7 linked regions of the Homo sapiens genome follow. The protein of the gene in region 2 purifies or fractionates together with the protein of the main gene of each other region. This does not show direct contact. Each region holds a gene or a part of one and is shown on either strand. Other genes may lie near its edges.

Evidence for each region.
Region 1: the proteins of NXF2 (region 2) and NUP42 purify together in Homo sapiens (affinity purification with mass spectrometry, with the first as the bait; 2 studies listed by BioGRID). This does not show direct contact.
Region 3: the proteins of NXF2 (region 2) and CEP131 purify together in Homo sapiens (affinity purification with mass spectrometry, with the first as the bait; 2 studies listed by BioGRID). This does not show direct contact.
Region 4: the proteins of NXF2 (region 2) and RGPD5 purify together in Homo sapiens (affinity purification with mass spectrometry, with the first as the bait; 2 studies listed by BioGRID). This does not show direct contact.
Region 5: the proteins of NXF2 (region 2) and RGPD8 purify together in Homo sapiens (affinity purification with mass spectrometry, with the first as the bait; 2 studies listed by BioGRID). This does not show direct contact.
Region 6: the proteins of NXF2 (region 2) and ZNF324 purify together in Homo sapiens (affinity purification with mass spectrometry, with the first as the bait; 2 studies listed by BioGRID). This does not show direct contact.
Region 7: the proteins of NXF2 (region 2) and NUFIP1 purify together in Homo sapiens (affinity purification with mass spectrometry, with the first as the bait; 2 studies listed by BioGRID). This does not show direct contact.

Annotation. Positions count from the first base shown.
Region 1 is NC_000007.14:23,185,048-23,188,547, reverse strand, and holds part of NUP42 (nucleoporin NUP42), read right to left. Parts: intron 3,479-3,500; coding exon 3,250-3,478; exon of another isoform or gene 3,246-3,249; intron 1,497-3,245; coding exon 1,402-1,496; intron 1-1,401.
Region 2 is NC_000023.11:102,323,667-102,327,166, forward strand, and holds the end of NXF2 (nuclear RNA export factor 2), read left to right. Parts: intron 1-3; coding exon 4-186; intron 187-2,596; coding exon 2,597-2,657; intron 2,658-2,803; coding exon 2,804-2,848; 3' UTR 2,849-3,056; downstream 3,057-3,500. UniProt on the Homo sapiens protein: Involved in the export of mRNA from the nucleus to the cytoplasm.
Region 3 is NC_000017.11:81,198,966-81,202,465, forward strand, and holds part of CEP131 (centrosomal protein of 131 kDa), read right to left. Parts: intron 3,434-3,500; coding exon 3,275-3,433; intron 1,482-3,274; coding exon 1,364-1,481; intron 871-1,363; coding exon 754-870; intron 585-753; coding exon 416-584; intron 7-415; coding exon 1-6. UniProt on the Homo sapiens protein: Component of centriolar satellites contributing to the building of a complex and dynamic network required to regulate cilia/flagellum formation.
Region 4 is NC_000002.12:109,853,305-109,855,754, reverse strand, and holds part of RGPD5 (RANBP2-like and GRIP domain-containing protein 5/6), read right to left. Parts: exon of another isoform or gene 66-2,450; intron 1-65.
Region 5 is NC_000002.12:112,427,146-112,430,645, reverse strand, and holds part of RGPD8 (RANBP2-like and GRIP domain-containing protein 8), read left to right. Parts: intron 1-3,500.
Region 6 is NC_000019.10:58,465,893-58,469,879, reverse strand, and holds the start of ZNF324 (zinc finger protein 324A), read right to left. Parts: upstream 2,801-3,987; 5' UTR 2,697-2,800; exon of another isoform or gene 1,702-2,696; coding exon of another isoform or gene 1,693-1,701; intron 701-1,692; coding exon of another isoform or gene 695-700; coding exon 574-694; intron 153-573; coding exon 36-152; intron 1-35. UniProt on the Homo sapiens protein: May be involved in transcriptional regulation. May be involved in regulation of cell proliferation.
Region 7 is NC_000013.11:44,958,472-44,961,971, forward strand, and holds part of NUFIP1 (FMR1-interacting protein NUFIP1), read right to left. Parts: intron 1,104-3,500; coding exon 910-1,103; intron 1-909. UniProt on the Homo sapiens protein: Binds RNA.

The sequences.
Region 1 (3,500 bases), on a different chromosome or scaffold from region 2:
TATTCAGGAATCCACATTTTAAGAACCACTGCTTTAGGGCAACAGGCATTAGGTTCAATTTGGAATGGATTAATACTCAAGTACTAATACTTAAGCTGATTAAGGGCTTAATACTTTGTGGTTTCTTTATAGAAAATATCATTATCTGAAATTATCTTAGTTTATTTGCATCACTTATTGTTTTCCTCCCTCAAGAATGTAAGATTCATAAGGAAGGGATCTTGTCTGTCTTGCTCATCACTATATTCCTAGCACTTAGCACAAAAGAAATTCAGTAAATATTTGTTAAATGGACAAGTGAATAAATAAGAAGCGTTGTAATGCAAATGCTCACAGAAAATGAGCAACTAGAACTGAGACAGAGGAAAGATCCCAAGGTTCTGCGATATTGATTGCAAGAGCTCCCATTTGCAAGGTACCCACTGTTTCCTCAAAAGGACGGAGGCCCAGGAACACCCAGAGTGGGCTTGGGAAAGCCCGGTGGTCTAGGTTTCAGCCCAGAAAGGGCTTAGGGACTATGGACAAAAAAAAAAATAAAAATAAAAAATAAAAAAAGAGAGAGAGAATATTCTAAAGCAAATGCTATTCCAGGCCAGAGAGAGAGAGAGAGACAGAGAATATTCTAAAGCAAATGCTATTCCAGGCCAGGTGTGGTGGCTCACGCCTATAATCCCAGCACTTTAGGAGCCTGTGGCGGGCGGATCACCTGAGGTCAGGAGTTCTAGACTAGACTGGCCAACATGGTAAAACCCCGTCTCTAGAAAAATACAAAAATTAGCCAGGTGTGGTAGCGGGCAACTGTAATCCCAGCTACTCGGGAGGCTGAGGCAGGAGAATCACTTGAACCTGGGAGGCAGAGGTCACAGTGAGCCGAGATCGCGTCACTGCACTCCAGCCTGGAGGACAAGAGTGAAACTCCGTCTCAAAAAAAAAAAAAAAAAAAAAAAAGTTGCTATCCCTGTAGCCCAGCTAAGCCTCCTCACATTTAAACATTATCTCCAGAACAGGTCTCAACACAACTATTCTTAGAAGGAAAGACAGGGAAGAAAGAACAGAACCAGGCAGCCAAGGCCTTAATGACAGGCAGGATGACTCTTCTATTCACAACAGGAAGCTAAGAGGTTCCAAAGTTGTACATACAGGGAATCAAGAACGTAGAGTCTCTTCCTGGGCTTTATTTAAATGTTTTCTCCCAAGAACTATATGTCTTAAAAGACTATATTCTCCAACCTTAATCTCTAAATTATGAAGTTTGGCTAGAATACTCGAATACTTTAAACAATGCCCAAACTCTCCTAGTTGTAGCTAAGTTGGTAGTTGATTTCTTTATTTGGCATTCTTTTGGTTTTAGAAAATAATAGTTTTAGAACATACTTTAAAAATGCACAATTTTTCAGTTACCTGAAATATTAGGTTTCTTTTTCACTGGTGAATAAACAGAAAACATCCACTGCCCTGATGATTCCCAAACCTCCATATCTTTTACAATTCCTTCCCTGCAAAAAAGAAAAAAAAAAAAAGAGTAAAGGATCTTCTTAGCTGCTTGGTAAAATTTATTGTTAATGGTTTTCCACAACTGAAAATTTAAATTCTAGTAAATACTTTTCCATTATATTTTCTGAAGAGTGTTCTTTAAAGCACAAGTTTATAGAAGTGTGAACTATATTTCATGGTTACAAATAGTATTATAATGTCAGAGAAGTTAATGAGTTTGGCTTTCCAATACACTGACCCATTAACCAATGTTAATACATAACATTGGTTATGATATGTAACCATATCATATGGTATCATTGGTATGATATGTAACATTGGTTATGATAGTAATTACATAAATACTATCATAGATACCATACTTTTTTTAGGAATTAAAATCTAAAATACTAACTTTAATCTTTGTTAATTATCACAAACATCAATAATCATTTAACTGGGAAGAACAAAGTACCACTTACGTGATACAGAATCATAATATTTTAAAAGTGGGTTATAGGACTTCAGAGATCATTTTATCTAATTCTCACATTTTGCAACAGGGGAAACAGACCCACATCCATACAACTAATCTGTGGTAATGCCGTGGGTAGATTCGGCTCTAAATTAAAGTTTCTCCCTACTTAGACTATGTCAATAAAAGGAGAATTATCACAGAGAAAACTGTATTAAATTTAGAATTGCAACAAATGCAGAAAGGAAGGTTTTGTTTGCTCATTTACTTAAAAAAAAATCGGTTGTATATGGTATATGACTCAACATGTCTACAACTGGTTCTGATTTAATTAGGATAAGTAAAAGACTAACCAATTACATTTAAATTCCATCCTAGTCACCATGAGTTGAGAGAACATTACAGATAGCCAAGCATTGTTTTGACACCAGCCATAAATTTTACCATAAATATTCTCAAGAAATGTCATGTATCTACTCCATAATAAATGTAGGAAATCAAATGAGATCAGTTTGAATAGGATAATCCAAGTAAAAGTTTTAGAAAGAAATAAGATATGTGGCTGGGTATGGTGGCTTATGCCTATAATCCCAGCACTTTGGGAGGCTGAGGCAGGCAGATCACTTGAGGTCAAGAGTTCAAGACCAGCCTGGCCAACATGGTAAAACCCTATCTCTACTAAAAACACAAAAAATTAGCTGGCTTGGTGGCAGGAGCCTGTAATCCCAGCTACTTGGGAGGCTGAGGCAGAAGAATGGCTTGAGCCCAGAAGGCGGAGGCTGCAGCGAGCCGAGATTGTACCACTGCACTCTAGCCTGGGCAACAGAGCAAGACTCCGTCTCAAAATAAATAAATAAATAAATAAATGAGATGGTAAAATGACCTCCAAGTTCACAAGTTGTTCTAAATTACATCATACTTTGTAAAGGACTTGTAAGTTAGAATGAACTTAAGCAGGACTAATCTTAGAAAGATATTCACAATATAGTGTTATCAACACAAAGTGGAAAAAGCGTAATTACCCCTAGGAAGGCACTCTACTATTATAGAAAGATGATATATTTTTAAGTGAAATAAAATCTAGGGTAATACACAGCAAAAGAGTGGCTATCTATGAGTGATAGAATTGTGGGTGATTTTTCTTCTTTTTGCTACTCTGATTTAAAAATAATGCATTATTTCTTTTTTTAAAGAAAATATTGTATTGTGAAAAGATGTTACAAAAAAAGAGAAACAACAAAGATTGTAGGTGAAAAAACATAAGCAAATGGATAGTAATTTTCCTGAAAACTTTCACTTACAGAAGTTTCTTTTCATCTTTCTGCTCATCAGGACTAAGTGAAGCAAATGGGTTCTCAGACAATCCAAAGCCTTCCTTCCTGTTAGTTGAAGCTCCAGAATCAAAAGAACTGAAATATGGCTTTTCTTGATCTCTGCTGCCCCCCCATGGTGTGGATTTGGAGAAACTGGATGGCTGGATGACATTGGAATATCTCTGGCTAGTTGTATTCCATCCACGTCTATTATTACCTAAAATAAACAATAAAACAAA
Region 2 (3,500 bases):
CAGTCTGTGCATCGTGAATGACGAGCTGTTTGTGAGGGATGCCAGCCCCCAAGAGACTCAGAGTGCCTTCTCCATCCCAGTGTCCACACTCTCCTCCAGCTCTGAGCCCTCCCTCTCCCAGGAGCAGCAGGAAATGGTGCAGGCTTTCTCTGCCCAGTCTGGGATGAAACTGGAGTGGTCTCAGAAGTGAGTGCTGGGAGTACATGGGGATGGGGGCTGTTGGGACATCAGAGGAATGAGTAATGGAAACTCACATGCAATTTGGAAAAATAACTATCTGGGTATTTTGCTTCCAAAAAAAGTGGGTCCATGAAAAAGGTATCATACTTTTATACTGGTATATGTAAATATTTTTTTAAATGGCATAATGCCCAAATGACATTACCTTCCATTTGTAAAATCTGAAAGAATCAACCACAATAAACTACTGATAAACCAGGTCAGCAAGGTTGAAAGATACAATATACAAAAATCATTTGTACTTCTATGTAGTTGCAATGGACAATCCAAAAAAATGAAATTAAGAAAATAAGTCCATCTACAGTAGCATCGAAAAGAAGAAAGTATGTAGGAACAAATTTAAGAGAAGAAGCGCAAATCTTGTACTCTGAAATCTGCAAAACATTGCTGAAAAAAATTAAAGAAGACCTAAATACGTGGAAAGGCATCCCACGTTCATAGATTGGAAGACTTAATATCATTACGATGGCAGTACCACCCAGAACAATCTACAGATTCATTGCAGTCCCTGACAGAATCCCAACTGACTTCTTTGCAGAAATTGACAAGGTAATCCCAAAATTCATGTGGAAATGCAGTGGACCCCAAACAGCCAAAACCATCTTGAAAGAGAAGAACAACGTTAGAAGACTCACACTTCCCGATTTCAGAACTTGCTACAAAACTACATTAATCAAGACTGTATGGTACCGACATAGGAACAGACGTGGGAATCAATGGAATATAATTGAGAGTCCACAGATAATCTCACGTATTTATGTCCAGTTGATTATCATTCAGGGTGCTGAAAAAATCCAATGGAGAAAAAAAATAGTCTTCTTAACAAATGGTGCTGGGAGAAGTGGATATCCACTTGCAAAACAATTAATTTTGACCCCTAACTCACATCACGTGCAAACACTGGCAGAAAATGGATCAATGACCTAAAATAAGAGCCAGAACTGTAAAACACTGTAAGTGTACATCTTCATTACCTTGAATTAGGCAACCATTTCTTACATATGAAACCAAAAGCACAAGCAACCAAAGAAAAAATAGGTAAATTGGACTTCATCTAAATTAAAAGCTTTTGTGCATCAGCAGACACTATCAAGAAAGCGGAAAACCGACTGGTGGGAACAAGGGAAAATATTTGCAAATCACATCGCCGACAAGAAGAACCCTTACAACTCAACAACAAACAGACAAGCCACCGAATTAAAAAATGGGGAAATGATTTGAATAGATGTTTCTCCAAAGGAGATATACAAATGACCAAGAAGCACGTGAAAATCTTCTCAACATCGTTAGTCATTAGGGAAACGCATATCGAAACCACAGTGAGTTACCACTTCATACCCACTACGCTAGCTTTAGTCCATAAAAGGAAACATGACAAATGTCGGTGAGAATGCAGAGAAATTGGAAATCTCATGTATTACTACTGGGAACATAAAGTGGAGCAGTTGCTGGCAAAAAGATTTTGGCAGTTCCTCAAAATCTTAAACATGGAGTTACCACATGATCCAGTAATCCCACTCCTAAGTGTATACCAAAAGAAATGAAAATATATGCCCATTCAACAACTTGCACATGAATTTCCGTAGTGGCATTATTCCAAATAGCCAAAAAATGGAAACACATGGATTGACCTTCAGCTGATGAATGGATAATGTGGTACATCCATACGGTGGAATATTATTAGAATATTATTCATCCACAAAAAAGGATGTAGTTGTGATATATGCTATGACGTGGATGAACCCTGAAAACATTATGTGCTAAGTGGGAGCACCCAGTCACAAAAAGCCACATAATTATATGATTCCATTCATACGAAGTGTTCAGAATAGCCAGATCCGTAGAGACCGAAAGCAGAGTAGTGGTTGCCAAGATCTGGGGAAGAGGGAGAACAGGGAGTGATCTCTAACAGTTAAGGAGTTTCTTTTTGAGGTGATAAAAACAGTTTGGAATTAGATAGGTGTGATGGTTGCACAATCTTGTGAATAGACTTAAAAGCACTGAATTGTACACCTTAAAATGGTGACTGCTACAGTATGTGCATTATATCTCAATAGAAAAGAAACGTATTATTGAATTTCCACTTGTTATTTCTTGAACATCTTTCTTTATCAATATGTATTAAGCTCCCTTGTTCATTTGAATACCGCTATGTTTCTGATTTGAATTCTAGTGGGCATTAATGTCAGGGATGGGCGTTTTGGTTTTCCCCAGGCCTTTTTTCATTGTTACAATAGTGCTCATATTGGTACATGTGACCCAGCAAAAAGGTAGCATAGATTAAGGGTGGCATTGCATAGTCAGCGTGTCTGTCCTGGGCTAGTAATGGAGAGCACCTGTTCTTCTCCCACCCCAGGTGCCTTCAGGACAATGAGTGGAACTACACTAGAGCTGGCCAGGCCTTCACTATGCTCCAGGTGAGGTCTGGGAATCAAGTGGGTAAAAGACAGCTGTCTCTGGGTCGTCAGGAGGGCCAAGAAGATGGAGGCCAGGTAGTGTGGGGATGGAACCCAGTGCACCTGGCTCTACTAACATCCCAACTCCTTTTCTTTACTTTCTCTAGACCGAGGGCAAGATCCCCGCGGAGGCCTTCAAGCAAATCTCCTAAAAGGAGCCCTCCGATGTCTTCTTTGTCTTCGTTCACATCCTCTTTGTTTCCTCTTTTCACCAGCCTAAGGCCTGGCTGACCAGGAAGCCAACGTTAACTTGCAGGCCACGTGACATAACCACCCAAAGAGCCAGTTGCTCTGTGTATTCGCCCCACTCATGATCACCATTTTATTTTCATAATAAAGAGTGACGTTACACGTTGTACATTGTGTGCCCTGGATTGCTCTTCCCCTGCCCCAGCCGTGAGCCAGCGGGACCAGGACTGAAAGCACTGCATCCCTGTTCATCCCTGGCTGGCCTTAGCAGATACATGAATCTGGCTTGCCTTCATAGGTAATTTTGTCCGTAAATCCTCATGAGAAAGGACACACGCTCCTTCCAGAGACTGGCCTTGAGAGACAGTTGGACTCTGTCAGATGCTCGACCTGGAGGCCCACAGAAGCAGGCATGTTACCTTGGCACACCAGGGGCTTCCATCCACCGTCCCGACCCCTCCCTTTCCCAAAGGTGCACTTTTCGAGGAGTCGTCTCAGGGTAGCACCTGCGGCGGGGGGTGGCGGGGGAGGGGGATACTCAGCCCATCTACCCGGCACACTCCTCAGAGAGCTGACACCGGGTGCTCCATGTCCATGTTCTTGAAGGGGATCAGC
Region 3 (3,500 bases), on a different chromosome or scaffold from region 2:
CACCACCTGCACAGCAGAACACAGCACCATTCCACAGGGAGCATCCCGGGGCGGGCAGCAACTCTGGAGGCACCCCCGGGAAGGAGCCAGGCATGGGGGAGGCGGAGGCGACCCCAGAAGCAGAGGAGCCGCTGGGGAGCCACGGCCTTCTGGGTGTGGAGCTGTGGAGGATGAGTGCCACCCCTCCCTTCCGGGCCTTCTACTCTGTAGGGATCCCTACGTCCAGGACCATTTGATTGTCAAGGTCTCGGCACCCTCGTCAGGTCAGCTGGGGGCCAAGGCCCCTAACTCCGAGGACTGGGGCCGCCAACATGGGCAGCAGCACAGGAGGCCGAGAGGAGGTCCACAAGGGCTGCACTTCCTTCCTGGCTGCAGTCCACCCCCCAGAGCAGGGCGGGCGTGGAGCCACTCTCACCAGTATTGTTGGCCTTGAGGGCCTGGTGGGCAGTGCCGCCTGGTGTGGGGGACAGCTCCTGAGCAGGCTGCCGCATTCCTGGCACTCTGGTCTCCCTGGGATTCTCAGGTGGCCCACGCTCGGCAGTGCTCGCCTTCTGGGCTCTCAGGGCTCGTTTCTGTTGCAGCTCCTGCAGTGGGAGCATCGCTGAGCACTGTCCCTGGGAGAGGACGACCCCAGGCTCCACAGCCAAGCTGCCCTGAGGCTAAGTGTCCCGGGGCCCAGGGAGCCCCAGCAGCAGCCCCGCACGGTCAGGCCTGGGCCACGGTGCTGCTCAGTGGTCCCTGCGCGGTCAGCACCTGAATGGCTGCTCGCCTGGCTTGGCGTGCCTTCTCCTCCCGGGCCTTCCTCCTGGCTGCCTCTTTCTGCTGGTGCAGGTCCAAGAGGGTCCCCTCGCCTGACCGCTGCCGCTGCTCCTGCCAAAGAAGCCGGTGCCATGTGGCGTTTACATCTGGAAGACGGAATCCAGACCCAGACCAGAGGTTTCCCCACAACGCCCTGGAGTCCCCTAGAGTTCGTGGAATCTCAGGGCCAGCAGGGAAAGTGAAACCCCACCAGGACCTTGAACCTGCCATTTCTCTGCTCTACAGAGGATGAGCCCTACGTCGCAGGTGGCCAACAGTTCTGGCGTGGGGGAGACAGCTCTGCCCCCACAGAACGTCCTCCTGAGACTCTCCAGCCTGGGATGGACCCAGCAGGCGTTTCCTGACACCCAGGCCCTGAGGACCGCCAGTGAGGACCACCCTGACTGTCCGCGGGGACCCAGGGTCAAGAAGGATGCTGCACCCAGAGACGGGGCCCACGAGCAATCCTAGGCTTTGATTCCACCTGTCCCAGAAACTCAAACCCCTGGGATTCTGGGCCAGACCCCCCGGGGGAGCATGGAGTGACTGAGACGCCCACACTGACCTCCCGCTTGGCCTGAAGCAAGTGCTCCAGGCGGGCAGCTCCTGCTCCGCGCCGCTGCACCTGGTGCCGGTACCAGCGCTGGATGGTGACAGTGGCCTGGTTCACCTGGTGGATAAACCTGCCCGGAGAGCAGGACTCAGGGCCAAGACAGGACCAGCGCCCCGGCAGGACCCAGCTGGCTGCTGGTGGAAGGTCGAGCCGGGGAAGAGAGAAGCCGGCGGCTGCACTCAAGTAGCCCTTTTCACAAGGCAGGACCAGCCCACCTGGACCATTTTCACATGGCAGGACCAGCCGCCTGGACCAGCTCCACTAAAACCCAAAACCTTCTTCCTGGGAAGGTGCCCAGGGGAGAGGAAACGCCTACCCACGCAGGCCTGTGTGGCCTTATTTACAATTGCCAGGAAGTGGGAAGAGTTCAAATGCCCATGACCTGGCTACAGCGTGAATACTGGATGGCGGGACCCTACCCACAGGCAACAGGCCCGGGACTCAGGCCAGTGCAGACCACAGGCCGTGGCTCCACAGAGAGGGTGGTCGGAACAGGCAGGGCTATGAGGGAACAGACTGGTGGCTGCTGGCATCTGGGCGGGGAAGGAGCTCGAGGGAAGCCTGGTGGTGCTGGGCCGTTTCCTTATCTTGGTCTGCTGTGTCCACAGACAGCACTATACACCCTGGTGGAATCTCATGGAACTGCACACTTACAATGGGCACCTTCTATTGTATACAAATTATACTAAGTAAAACTGATTAAGCAAAAAAAAAAATGCTTCACCTTGGCTCTCGGGACCATGTGTGGATTCTCTCAGCAAAGGCACTAACAGAGAACCCAGAACGTGTGAGCCCTAGCTCGGGAGCAGTCTGCCCCGGGCAGAACTGGGGGGCTTCAAGGGGTTGCGGGCTTCTGGTCCCCCTTCCCTCGTGCCACCCACCGCGTCTACAGGCCTGGTCTCCCTAGCCCTAACTGGGCGGTAGGGTAGGTGACGGCTCCGCCAGGAGCAGGCTCCGAAAGTCCAGGCAGGGAGGTACCCCCGCGACTGTCCTGACAAGAAACGACTGTCATGGTCACAGGAGGCTCCGCCCACAGCCCCTCCAGCTCCCCAGGGGCAAGCGGCAGGGGCACAGCCCCCAACAGTCATCATCACAGGAGGCTCCGCCCACAGCCCCTGGAGCTTTGGGTGTTGTTGGCTTTTTTCAGTTCTGTATCTTCTTTGCCTTTAATGTTGTTTTAATTAACAGTTTTACTGAGGTACAATTTCCATACTATAAAATCTACCCATTTTCAGTGTACAAGTCAATGATTTTTAGCAAATCTAGAGTTGTGTGACCATCAGCACAGTGCAGTTCTGGAATGTTCCACTGCCCCTGGAGGAGCCCTCTCTGCCACCCCTACACCAGCCTTCGACCTCCTGTGATAAACTTGCCTTTGCTTGGTGTTTTATGTAAATAGAACCACACCACATGGGGTCTGCTCGGTCTCAATATTTTAAAACAGGCCGGGGGTGGTGGCTCACGCCTGTAATCCCAGCACTTTGGGAGGCGGAGGCGGGCGGATCACGAGGTCAGGAGATCGAGAACATCCTGGCTAACACGGTGAAACCCCGTCTCTACTAAAAATACAAAAAATTAGCCAGGCGTGGTGGCGGGCACCTGTAGTCCCAGCTACTCGGGAGGCTGAGGCAGGAGAATGGTGTGAACCCGGGAGGCAGAGCTTGCAGCGAGCAGAGATCGCGCCACTGCACTCCAGCCTGGGCGACAGAGCGAGACTCTGTCTCAAAAAAAAAAAAAATTAAATTAAAACAATTATTAAATGGAAATTTCTATCCTCGGAGGTGTGAGCCCCCCAGACCCTGATGCCTGCCCACCTCTGTGTTCTAGGCTCAGGCCCCCCCCCACCGCCCCAAGATCGGTCACCTCTCAGCCTCCTCCTCCGTCACCTCCTTCCGCCTGGGCAAGCCCGTGCTGCCCCCAGTATTGTTCCGGGCTGAGTGGGTGGCACTGGAGACATTCTTCGGCAGCTTCCCAAAGCCGCTGCTCTCACTGCCCTCACAGGTGGCTGCCTTGATGATGTTGCTGACAGGTAAGAAGAAAACACCCTCGTCTCACCGCCCAGGGGAACAGCTCTGCCCACAGGCAGCAG
Region 4 (2,450 bases), on a different chromosome or scaffold from region 2:
TTTTTTACTGATCACATGCCTTTTTTGGTGGGGGGGGGGGGTTCTTTTTTTTTTTTTTTTTTTGAGATAGGGTCTTGCTCTGTCACCCAGGCTCGAGTGCAGTGGCGTGATGAGACTTCAATGCAGCCTTGATCTCCCAGGCTCAAGTGATTCTCCCACCTCAGCCTCCCAAGCAACTGGGACCACAAGGTGTGTACCACCATGCCTGGGTAATTTTTTGTTTTTTTGTAGAGATGCAGGTCTCACTGTTTTCCAGGCTGGTCTCAAATTCCTGGGCTCAAGTGATCCTCCCACTTCAGCCTCACAGTGTTGGGATTGCAGTCACGAGCCACTGTACCCAACCATATGTCATTCTTTAGACACACTGCTTACTAAATTTCTCTTTTTAAAGGATATACTGAATTTCCGGTTGAGCCAACTTAACAGCTAATTTTCTATTTTAGCTTTAAAACATTGATAAGCAACATGAAGCAATCTAGAACTTAACCTTTAAATGGCTTTATTAAAGCAATCCAGCTATGAAAATTATGCAGAAATGATTATCTACAATCTTACCAGCACATAAGAAATTCTTCCTCTATTCTGAAATACCATCTTCTCACAATATACTTTGATGTTATGAATCAATGTCTGTTCTTGAACATTATTTATTGTCTTTCTCTATTAAACAATTCCAAAATAAAATTTCCAGCACAACTAAATATTGTTGACGATAAGGGGATTTAAAAAAAAATTCTTTTAAAACAGAAGCTTATATACAACTTAGAATCTAAAACCAATAGATTTATGGGAAACCTTAAAACTGAACCACAACAAACAAAAACCAAAGTTTTAATCATTTAAAAATCATGTTTATTGAGGTACAACTTACTTATAGTAAAACCTGCCCTTTTCAGCATATAGCACTGAGTCTTGACAAATGCACAGTTACGTACCACCACCGACCAAGGCCTGGCACATTTTCATCTCCTCAAAGTTCTCCCTGGCTGCTTCTCCCACTCCTTGGCAACCGCTAACCTGTTTTCTGTCCTTATAGTTCTGCTTTTTTCAGTGTCATATAAGTAGAATCACACTGTACATAGTATTTTGAGTCTGACCTCTGTCAACTGGCATAATGCATTTGAGAATTACCCATGTTGCTGAACTGGCAGTGCATTCTTTTTTATTGCTGAGCAGTATTCAATTGCACGGCTGTACCAGTTTGTTTATTCATTTGCCAGTTGAAGGATAACTGAGATCTTCCTCGTTTTTAGCAATTTTAAAGAAAGTTTCTACGAATAATTGTGTACAGGTTTTTAATTAAATGTTTTGGAGATATAATTCATATACCACATAATTCACCTTTTTAAAGTGCATAATTCACTGGTTTTTAATATATTCACAAGGTTTGTGCATAGGTTTTTGTGTGAATACTGGTTTTCATTCCTCTTGGATAAAGATTTAATTTGGTATTACCCTTCCAGACACCTTTCTGTGTTTTCATACGTATATATGTATGACAGTTTGACCTTAGGCAGAGTAGCATTTTCAAAATTTTACATGGGGAAACTTTCTAGAGTTAAAGTCATTTTATTTTTCTGTTCTGTCTGGTTTTATCTGCGTGTTATTTACAATCTGCTGCGTAACAAATTACTACAAACTTAGTACCTTAACACATATTTATTTCACAGTTTCTGTGGGTCAGGAGATCAGAAATGGTTCTATTTCAAGGTCTCTCACAGGGCTGCAATCAAGATGTTGGCATGGCTGGGGTCTCATCTGAAGGCTGGACTGGAGAAGAATCTACTTCCAAACTTATGTGGTAGTTGGAAGAATTTAGTTCCTCAAGGCTGCTAAACTGATGGCCTGTGTTCCTTGCCTCTGGGATGGTAGCTTGCTTCAACAAAGTGTGCAAGCAGAGAAGACAGAGAGAGGCCGCTAGCAAGATAGAAGCCACAATCTCTTGTAATCTATCATTCTTGCTGTATTCTACTGGTTAAACATAACTCATTAGGTTAGCCTACTGGCTCTCAAGGGGAAGAGATTATACAAAGGCATGCATTTCTGGAGGAGGGAATGAGGGCAAACAATTCTGAAAAGTCTGTCTTCCACAACCTGAAGAACTTCTAGAAAGTAGGAGGAAGCGATATTGCTTAGGGATGGACAACTTGGCACTGGTTATGTGTTCCAAGTGAGGTAACCTTGTTCCCAAGAATAAAGAGAACCAGACGACTGTAAACATTTCCCTAAACTGAAATGCAGACTGTTGTATGTTCACCTGAAATGAATGGTGTAAGCTGAATATAAGATTTTTGACAAAATAAAAATTTTGCTGTGTTCTCAGATCTGGCAGGCTCCTGCCCTTGTGCAAACAATGTTCCTGGCAGCTATTCATCTCCTTAGGTAAATAAGAATTGGAGAAAAGCTGTGCTTAGATAGGGTGCATTTGCTCTTGCCTTGGAAGGCTGTTT
Region 5 (3,500 bases), on a different chromosome or scaffold from region 2:
AGCAACCTTAGAGCCTTTCTGAGATTCTTAGTGGGGACCTTGGCTTCCAAAAGATTAAAAACCACTGGTCTAGACAGAAGTCAGAATGTTCTTTCAACTACATAACTTCTCCATTAAATAAAGTGGAGTGGTAGCAACATTTTGACGATTGGTTATTATGACCACCTCTCTTACACTTAGAGTCTTTTTTTCCCCCCCAAATTTAAAGTCATTTACATTAGAACCTGGGGATTTCAGCGGAATATGGATTAACTAGTGAGTAACTGGAACATGTGAAGCTATTCTGTAAAGTTAGGTTTGAGTGAAATGACAAAACAGGGTGCTTTGGATAGAAGGTAAAGAATGGAGGGAGAAGAGGCAGTGGCTGTGAAGAATATGAAGAGGTTAGTATTCTCCCCCAGTTTGGCAGAGGCTGGCCATCTGTGAACTGCCCATGCCTTCTAGAATGTCGGAGTTTTGGTGTGTGATGATGCGTCTGTATATCATATCTTTCTAGTCTTCCATTGTGCTTTCATTTGTTAGTCTTCTCTTGTTTTGCCATTTTTCTACTCCCTCACATGTGCTTTTGCCCTTCTTAAAAATATTCTTCGTCTGTAATCCGAGCACTTTGGGAGGCCGAGAGACCAGCCTGACCAATATGGTGAAAATCTGTCTCTATTAAAAATACAAAAATGAGCCGGGCGTGGTGGCAGCGCCTGTAGTCCCACCTACTCGGTAGGCTGAGACAGGAGAATTGCTTGAACCCTGGAGGCAGAGGTTGTGGTGAGCAGAGATTGCGCCACTGCACTCCAGCCTGTGTGACAGAGCGAGACTCTGTCTCCAAAAAAGAAAAAAGGAAAAAAATATAATTCTTTCTCTAGTTTTTCTTTTTCCCGATGGCTTCTGTTTAGTTTTTCTATGTTCTGTCAAGTCGATTTCTTATTCTGCAGCTGATTCCTACTTCTCAAAGTCTACTTGACAGCTCTTATTTTTATTTATTTGTTTTTTAGAATAGGGTCTTGCTGTGTTGCTCATCAAATTTTTGGGCGTAAATGATCCTCCTACCTCTGTTTCCTGAGTACTTAGGACTACAGGCAGGCACCTTTGACAGCTGTTAGTTGTTTTTTCTGCCCTTTACATCTATACTTCATACTTCTGAGTAACACACATATATACTTTTGTTATTTTTAATTCCCTTTCTCCCATTTTAGACATTTTCTTTTCTTTTCTTTTTTTTTTTTTTTTTTTTTTGAGACGGAGTCTGGCTCTATCGTCCAGGCTGGAGTGCAGTGTCGCGATCTCGGCTCACTGCAAACTCTGCCTCCGGGGTTCACGCCATTCTCCTGCCCCAGCCTGTAGCTGGGACTACAGGCACCCGCCACAACACTCGGCTAATTTTTTAGCATTTTTAGTAGAGACGGAGTTTCACCGTGTTAGCCAGGATAGTCTCAATCTCCTGACCTCATGATCCGCCCGCCTCAGCCTCCCAAAGTGCTGGGATTACAGGCGTGAGCCACCGCGCCCGGCCCCATTTTAGACATTCTGTACTGGCTATTATGCTCCTCCAAAACTGTCCTCAGACACTTTGGTTTGCCCCTCATTCTTTCAGTACTGTTACTGCAGTTTTTGTTTAAATGAATAGTTAACATTTATATAAATAGAAGGTAAATATTTTTGCATTTGAATTGCCCTTGTTGTGCAGTTTTTTGTTGTTTTTTTTATTATACTTTAAGTTTTAGGGTACATGTGCACATTGTGCAGGTTAGTTACATATGTATACATGTGCCATGCTGGTGTGCTGCACCCACGTTTTCCTGGACTGAATAATTGCTTTATTTTTTGGTTTGCTTGTATGTTGTGTTACTACTTGCTTACTTAAACTCAGCAATTTAAACCCTCAAATGTGGTCAAACTGGTCACATAATCCCATCAATTTCAGCTTAAAACATTGATTGATTGATTGATTGTCTGTCTACCTGGAATACCCTTACTAACCAACTTCTCCAACCCGGATTGGTTTTTCTTCCTCTTTGCTACACAGCTGTGCTCTTGGGACTTCCCTTTATCACCAGTTTGAGAATTCCCTTCATCTTTTTTCTGAGTTAGACCCTTTGTTTCTTGTATCTCATGTCCTCTTCATTTACTTTCTTTGTTTTGGTGTAGCATAGTCTCACTTGCTTTGAGGAAAAGTGGATGAGAGGTTTTTTTGTTTGTTTTTGTTATGGGACAGAGTCTTGCTCTGTTGCCCAGGCTGGAGTGCAGTGGCATGGTCTCAGCTCACCGCAACCTCCGCCTCCCAGGTTCAAGTGATTCTCCTGCCTCAGCCTCCCGAGTAGCGGGATTACAGGTGTGCGCCACCATGCCCGGCTAATTTTTTCTATTTTTAGTAGAGATGGGATTTCACCATACTGGTCAGGCTGGTCTAGAAACTAATGGTATGTCTTTAAAACATCTTTACTTAATTTAGTTGATCATTTGGTTATCGAATTCTGAGTTTCAAATAATTTTTTTTGCAATTTTGAAAGCATTGCTCCATTTTCTAGAAGTTCTGTTGTTAGGAGTCCCATGAGATTCTTGTTCTTGGTAACTTAAAGGTTTTCTGGAAGTGTCCTTTCAATTGGGAAACTCATTTCTTTCAGTTCTGTAGCATTTCTTGTATTATTTCTTTGACCATTTCTTACCCTTTTTTTTAATGATGTTTACCTGAAAGCTGGAGTTTCTCTAATTTTTCTCTTATTCTCCTCTTTTGTTTGTTCTGCCTTTTGAGAGATTTCCTTACCCTTATGTTCCAGGGGAAGAAGATTGGGGAACTCATGGTTCAGTATCTAGACTTTTCCTCATTGTCCTGTATAATCACGGCCTTCACCCTTGTTGGGACTCCACAGATTTGGAGCTGATCAGATGGGTTTGTTGAGAACAGCAGCTTTTTTGGAGGATTTTAGGGGGAGGGAGATTCATTTGACTGTGCAAGATGGGCGACAGGGTGAGACTCCGTTTGAATTAAAAAAAAAAGAGAGAAATTTAGAACTGCATAATGAAAAAGTAGGCCACAAATATTAAGTTTTGGACAATTACAATTACATCTCTATCTTACTGTGCAAGATAGCGATGATGTGGCATCTCTTAGGGTCTTACTGTTCCTGTTTTCAGCCCTGCATCAGTTCTTGATATTTGGCAGCTTAAGTGAATTCAGGTATTTGCTTATAGTGACATCTGCTGTCATGTAAAGAAGTACTGCTTGCATCAGATATTGTCCTGTTTACATAACATGGGCTGTGCTCCTTTCTAGCTGTATATCTTTAAACAAGGCATTTGTCTGCTTGAGCTTCAGTTCCCTTGTAAAGTGAGCAGGTTAGAGGCAAAAGATCATATAGAAGAATAATTTGTAAAGTTGTTTAATTATCTTAAGATTGTCTACTTTAATAACATAGTTGGAAGCAAAGAAGGTAATGGAATTATTTTTCTATTATGTTTTAACATAGTTGGAAGCAAAGAAGGTAATGGAATTATTTTTCTATTAT
Region 6 (3,987 bases), on a different chromosome or scaffold from region 2:
GTCCTGAATTCACCCCACCCTGAGCTCCCTCTCACCAGGGTTGCGCCTCCTGTAGGTGGTCCTGGACAGGGTTGTGTCCGTTCCACTGGGAACCCAGGGCTCCTCGCCACGCTCCAGTTGGATGACCACACGAGGTCGAGAGGTGGAGAGTCCTGTGAGGAGGAGGTGCAGGTTAGAGTCCAGCCCCAGCTCAAGATAACCCACCTCCAAACAGAGGGCAGGAGTCAGGGCTTCACGGAAACAGAAAATGTCATCTGTGCAACTGCAGAATCTAAAGATGGCACAGGGCAAGGGGCTCACAGGAATAGCTCATTCATCCCCAGGGCAGCAACTGTGCCCAGGGCACCAAAGGAAGGGGACTGAGCCAAGGCTCGGAGAGGCCACAGCCGGACAGCGCCACAGGGAGTGGTTGAGCCAACCAGACTGCATGTCTATAGGACCAGACCCCTATTCCACATGGCTCCTGGCTGCAAGGTATAGGCCTGCTCGTCAGCCACCAGGGAGGTGAGGGGGCAGCCCTGGCCAGTCAGCTTGTTATCAGTTGCCCATTTCATGGAGTATCTAGGACCTTACCCAGCGAGGCCACAAGTGCGAAGTTGTCTAGCATCACGCGGCGGTACAGGGCCCTCTGGGCTGTGTCCAGGAGCCCCCACTCCTCCTGGGAGAAGTACACAGCCACATCCTCAAAGGCCATCTGGTCCTAAAAGAGCAGGGAGGAAGAGACAGCCATGGTCTAAGGCTGGGTTATCCAATCTTTTGGCTTCCCTGGGCCACATTGGAAGAAGAATTGTCTTGGGCAACACATAAAATACATTAACACTAATAACAGCTGATGAGCTAAAAAAAATAAAAATTGCATAAACATCTCATGTTTTAAGAAAGTTCACGAACTTGTTTTGGGCTGCATTCAAAGCCATCCTGGGCAGTGGGTTGGACAAGCTTAGTTTAAGGTATGGCTGTGAGCCAGGACCAAGCTCCCCATCCCAACAGCCACCTTCCATGATGTCCCTCAGACACTCACCCTCCTTCCCTGGGTTCTGCCCCCACCATCTTCAGATGGCACTTCCCTCACATGTCTGGGACCCCTCCCCTCTGCCCTCCCTGACCAGACCCCAGATGCCTTCTTGGCCTCCCCACTGGCAACGCCATACACAAGCAAGCTAGAACAAGTCCTGGCTGGGCCCTCAGCTGCCACACCAAGAGCAGCCCCAGGTGTCCACTCGTGACTCAGCATGACCACTCATGACCCTCCCCAGATGCACCCTTCCTGCTCTTGTAGCAAGAAACTGTGAGTCCCAGCAGGGGCTTCCCAGGCATACCCATCACTGGGACCCTCCCCTGCTGAGCCTGCTTGCCTGACATTTCCAGGCTGCTCATCCAGCCTGAGGGACTGGATGATTCTCACCAGTCGCCACAGGGGAGCAGCCTCAACAACCTGTGAACACAGAGGAACTCAATCCCTTCCTCCTTTCACCCGGTGTCCCCTTTCTTCCCCTCTCTGTTGCCACCCTCCCCTCCTCAGTTAGGTGCTAGGCTCTTCCCAATAGCCCCAGGCATCCCAGCTGGTCTTCTTTACCCTCAAGCCATAACTGCCCACACCTGGCTGAGTCCCTGCCCATTCCTCAGTCCAATTCATAGGCCCTGTCCACAGCCCAGGACGCCAACAACGTCAGGTCCAGTGACATGACCAACCTGGGACATCCCAGACTCTTGATCTTTCCCCTGAAGGAAACCTGCTTTCCTTTCAATTCTCCTTTCTATCTACAGCAGCTCTCTTCTTCCAGGCGCTCAGGCTGAACAACATGGGGTACTTAGTTCTTCAAACAGCCCACACCTGATGCATCCGCAGATCCACCAGAATTCACCTGGTCGCCCACCTCCACTGCTGCCCAGACTGTGGCAGTCGGTTCTTCCCTTCATGCCGACACCCCTGCATGTCTGTTCTCCACGCAACAAACGGTGGAACCGTTTTAAAGTCCTCAGAGGATGTCCTGATTCTGTTCAAAACTTCTATGTCTCCCGACGCCCTCGAGATAAAGCCCACTCCCTCGCCTGATACTGCAGCCGCACACATCCCCTCTACTCCAGCTCCACATCGAGAGAGCTCAGTCCCAGAAGCACCTGGGCTTCGGCTCCCCTCCCAGGTTTTGCACACGCAGGACTCTCCCCTCGGAGCCTCCTTCGGGACCTCAGCCCCCTGGCTGCCCGAACTCGGGAGCTCACCAGTGCCCTGGACGCAGGAGTTTGCACTGACCCCCGCAACCCCCCCAGGGCAGGGAGAGGAAAGACGACTAGGCGAGGTCTAGGAAGCGGCCTCCCTCCGTGAGGGCGCGGTCTGTGTGAGCAGGGACTCCCCTGCTTCCCCGACGCGGGCTTGTCAGCGCCACCGCCGCCAGCGGAACCCGCAGCTGGGAGGGAAGAAAGGCGTGGACCACCCAGCCTTTCCCCGCCAGCAGCGTCCCGGGGCCGCCCCGCGCCTCAGTCTCCCCGGCCATCATGGACGTGGAACGCCCAGCGCGCAGCCTCCTGGGCTGCCGCACGGTGGGAGAGCGCATGGCTCCCGCCGCGGCCCGACAGTCCCCTGGACGCCCACGACGCACTCTGAGAAACAGAGGCTTGGGGGCGCGGCCGGCGGCCGGCGCCCTTGATCACGACGCGTGCGCAGGGCGGGCCCGACGCGGGCCCTCAGCCAGTACCTTCCTCGCCGCCAGCCTCGAGCACCAGGAACCCCCTGGAAACCGGACCCGACCCGCGGTCCCCAGCCCAGACCACCGGTGTGGCCTGACGCGGGCGGCGAAGTGACAGTCCCACCGCCGGAAGTCCAGCCCTTCGGTTCTCATTGGCCCAGTGCGCGCCGCGGACGCTTGCGTACAGCCTTCCGGGTCACGTGGTTCCCGCCTGTTTCCCTGCGTGGAGGCGGGGCCACTACCGGTCTCCTTGGCAACGTCCAAGCCCCTGCCGCGCGGGGCGCTGGGAAATGGAGTCGCGCGGCGGCCTCGGGTTTTCAAGGGCTTGGTGGCGCTGGTGGATTCGCCCGGTGTGTAGTCCTGCCTTCGGCATTCCAGGTGTCCTCCCAAGCAGTCCCGGAGACTAAACCCTGCAGGTGCGAAAGCAGAAACTGCCGAGGTTCCAAGAGGCAACACCAGCAGTGAGCACGGAGGAGAAAATGCACCGGGTAGCGCAGGTGGAGGTGGAGGAGCCGATGCCTGGAGCTCCGGGTTCCCTTCCCAGCTCTGCCTCTCACTGACTGTGCGTCCTGGGCGCGGGTTTGACCTCTCTGTGTCAATGTCCCGTAAAGGTTTAAGGTCCGTTTTCAACCTTTACACCAAGAATTCTCAGCCCGTAAGCCTACATTTGTCTTAAGTATGAGACTGTTCCTCGACACTTGCCCAAAGCATCTGTTTTCCTTGTAATTTGGATGGGCAGAAGTTAATTCCCCAGATTTGCTTGTCCTTAGACCATCTAGATCTTGTCTTGCCCCACACATCACAATATTCATTCTTTTTTCCTTTTTTCTTGGGACTCATTTAAGTTTTTTTTTTTTTTTTTTAACAGGGTCTTTGTTCTGTTGCCCGTGCTGGAGTGCAGTGGCACAATCTCGGCTCACTGCAACCTCTGCCTTCAGGTTCAAGTGATCCCCCCGCCTCAGCCTCCGTAGTAGCTGGGACCACAGGTGTGCGCCACCATGCCTGGCTAATTTTTGTATTTTTTAGTAGAGATGGAGTTTCACCATGTTGGCCAGGCTGGTCTTGAACTCCTGACCTCAGGTGATCCGCCCACCTCGTTCTCCCAAAGTGCTGGGATTACAGGCCAATTTAAGTGTCTTTGACACATAAAAACGAAAGGCAGAGCAGTCTCAATGTAGACTGTCTTGTTTGGCAGATAATAAAAGGTTCTTTGTCTTGTTTTTGGAACCTGTAGACAGTTCTCAGCTGTCCAGTTCCTTAACTCTTTTTGCCTCCCTCCCTCTATACCTACCTCCATCTA
Region 7 (3,500 bases), on a different chromosome or scaffold from region 2:
TTAGCCTAATGTTCCCTTATGCAATGATCTTTTTCCATCCTAATTCAGTCAACGAATTAGTTATCCTCTCTTTTCTTGCCACTCGTAAGTTCAAAAACTTGCCATGTGATTATCATAGAAGCCAACATCATCCAAGCTAAACAGCCTACAATCAAATCTACAATGTCACTAATGTCAATTCACTCACTAATAATCTTTGGGTATTCCTTTGCAGTACAAAGCATATGCAATTAGATAAAGCCTCACAATGTTACTGGAGAAAAATGTAGTAAAAATATTTACATACACATTTCATTTTTCAGGAAGAGAAATGGAGTCTCAAAGGCTAAATGATATCTGTATGTGACACCAGCATTTTAATGCTTTTATTTTTCAACTAATAAGCAAGTTAACTTGCCCTATATGTTTTAGAGGAAATTCAAGGACAAACATATATAAATATAATCTATGCTCTGAAGAACAGTACTGATCAAACATAATGAATTAGTATTTTTTGCCCAGAGATCATGCTCATGCTCAGTAGCATAAAGTATACTGACTTCCGTTAGAATTGCTGCTTTATAGGTAAAGGGAAAATCCACATATTTGGGCAAATTTGAATGCACAGCATTAATACATTCAAAACAATCTTAAGAAATTTCTAAGATTACCTCATACTAATGAAAATTATCCAGCAAATACAGTCCTTCTCCTATAGCCTCCCTGCCCCATGTGCCCACCCAAGACTCAGAAAAGATGTTCTGAAATGACGTTTTAAACAAGATGCTCCTATTAAAAACAAAAACAAAAGCATCATTCTGCATTGTTATACATTTGATATTAAACTTTCCACAAGCAAGGCTGTGAATAATCAACTTCAGCATCATTGTCTATACACTTATAAATACGTTATTTTCCTGTTTAGCTTACCAGAATCACTGTTTATCAAAACACCAAGAGGATCTGCATTTGCCTCCGGTGGACCTTCTAGCTTCAAATCACACAAGTGACTGCCTGATCCAGTGACTGCTCTCTGTCTAGAATTGTCGTTTTTCCATTTGTGATTCTTGCCAGGACTTCTGATCTTTGCCATTTGTGAATGTCTGGACATCCCCTTCATCTTGCTGGAGTAAGAAAATTGCAATTTTTAATATAAAAGGCACTGACCTTCCAAGAAAATTTTGAAAAAGACTACTAGATACAAAAGAAACCTAGCTGTAAAACTGATCACTTGTAGCCTAGTACATTAAAGAGACGAAAATAAAAGAAATTCCAGTGACTTTCAAAGACAGGGAAGCCTATGATAGAACTTTAGAAGGACAGCACCCCACAATATACCACACCTTCTTGATTCTACGCTGCAAATTTCTACCCATATTGTTATCCCTCTGAAATTGGGCTGTGTCGTATTATCATTAAAGGCCAATTTAACTGGCAGCATTATTTCATTCTTCTATTGTACATGAAAGTTTCTTTTTTCTTCTCTTTTTTTTTTTTTTGAGACAGAATCTTGCTCTGTCACCCAGGCTGGAGTGCAGTAGCATGATCTTGGCTCACTGCAACCTCCACCTCCCAGGTTCAAGCGATTTTCCTGCCTTAGCTTCCCAAGCAGCTGGGATTACAGGCACGTGCCACCACACCCAGCTAATTTTTGTATTTTTAGTAGAGTCAAGGTTTCACCATGTTGGCCAGGATGGTCTCGATCTTCTGACCTCGTGATCTGCCCACCTCGGCCTCACAAAGTGCTGGGGTTACAGGTGTGAGCCACTGTGCCCAGCTCAAAGTGTTTCTCAGAGTTTATAAAGTATGTTCACTCTTGTCTACTCATTTTATTTTGAGACGGAGTCTCACTCTGTCGCCCAGGCTGGAGTGCAATGGCATGATCTTGGCTCACTGCAACTTCCACCTCCTGGGTTCTAGCGATTCTCCTGCCTCAGCCTCCCGAGTAGCTGGGACTACAGGCACCCACCATCAGCCCGGCTAATTTTTGTATTTTTGTAGAGACAAGGTTTCACCATGTTGGCCAGGATGGTCTCGAACTCCTGACCTCAGGTGATCCACCCACCTCAGCCTCCCACAGTGCCAGGATTATAGGCATGAGCCACTACACCTGGCCTTGTCTACTCATTTTTAAGGAGTTAAAGTTTCTGAAGCATTTACAAATATGACTTGTTGGACCTTCATGAACCCTCTGAAATAGGTAACACAGGTACTATTTTCTCTGCTTTATAGGCCTATCAGAACACATAAGCCTATTGCAATTTCACAGCCAGCTCAAATCAAGTGCCCTCTCAACAGCTACAACTACTTTTAGAAAGAAAGCAAGTATTGGCCGGGCGCGGTGGCTCACGCCTTTAATTTCAGCACTTTGGGAGGCCAAGGTGGGCGGATCACTTGAGCTCAGGAGTTCGAAACCATCCTGGGCAACTTCGTCTCTACTAAAATACAAAAAATAAGCTGGGCACGGTAGCAGGTGCCTGTAGTCCCAGCTCCTCGGGAGGCTGAAGCACAAGAATTGCTTAAACTCGGGAGGTGGAAGTCACAGTGGGCCGAGATTGTGCCACTGCACTCCAGCCCGGGCAAAGTAAGACTCTGTCTCCAGAAAAAAAAAAAAAAAAAAAAGAAAGCACGTATTTATGTGAGCATCTTCTAATTTAAACTGTGTGTGTGTGTGCGGGGGCGGGGAAGACAGTTAAAAAAAGGTTCCTTCATAGTAGACAATAACACAAGGTATTCATTGGTGGGACTGAGTTTTTGCAAAGATAGGCTTTTGACAGTTTGCCATTTATTGGGCAAAATTCATTTTTCATTAATAATGGAGGATGCAGTAAATAATTAGAAATCTGCATCTAAATCTCAACTTTGTCAGTTATGGGCTGTGTCTGCTGTACAAATATTTGTAAGCCTAAGCCTGTTTACTCCTTTAAACAGAATGGGAATTATAGGGACATAGAATTCAGATAATATAAATACAGTACTTCACAGAGCAAGATAACACATTAAGCCCTTAATAAATGGTAGTTTACTATCATAACATTTTTGAAATAATTTGTTAAATCAACATGTTTATATATCTGCAATCCAGAGATTTTTAATCCCTTTAGGGTCATAATAACCCTTGGAGAATCTCATTACAAAAATTAATATATATGTATAGTCCAAATTTTGCAGAAAGCCATGGACCAATCTCCTATGTCCATCCACAGATGTCAGGCTAAGAACCTAACAGTGTCACTGCAAAGAAAACAGGTCTAGTTTCTGCCTCCAGCCCACTGGCCCCATAAGGATAATGAAGAGATGCCACTTTCTTTGAGCTCCCATTCACGGATGCCTTCCCCGTTATCTTTTCTCTTACAGCATCTGACCACAGCTAGCTTCTGAATGATCATCATTAAGGTATTCACTAATAAGTAATGAGTTAAGAAGATCCTTCACTAATGACATCTATAAGACTTAATTGAGAAAGTAGTGTATCTGTTATTTGCACTCTATTTCACCTTCAAGGGAGTAGTTCTGTTATA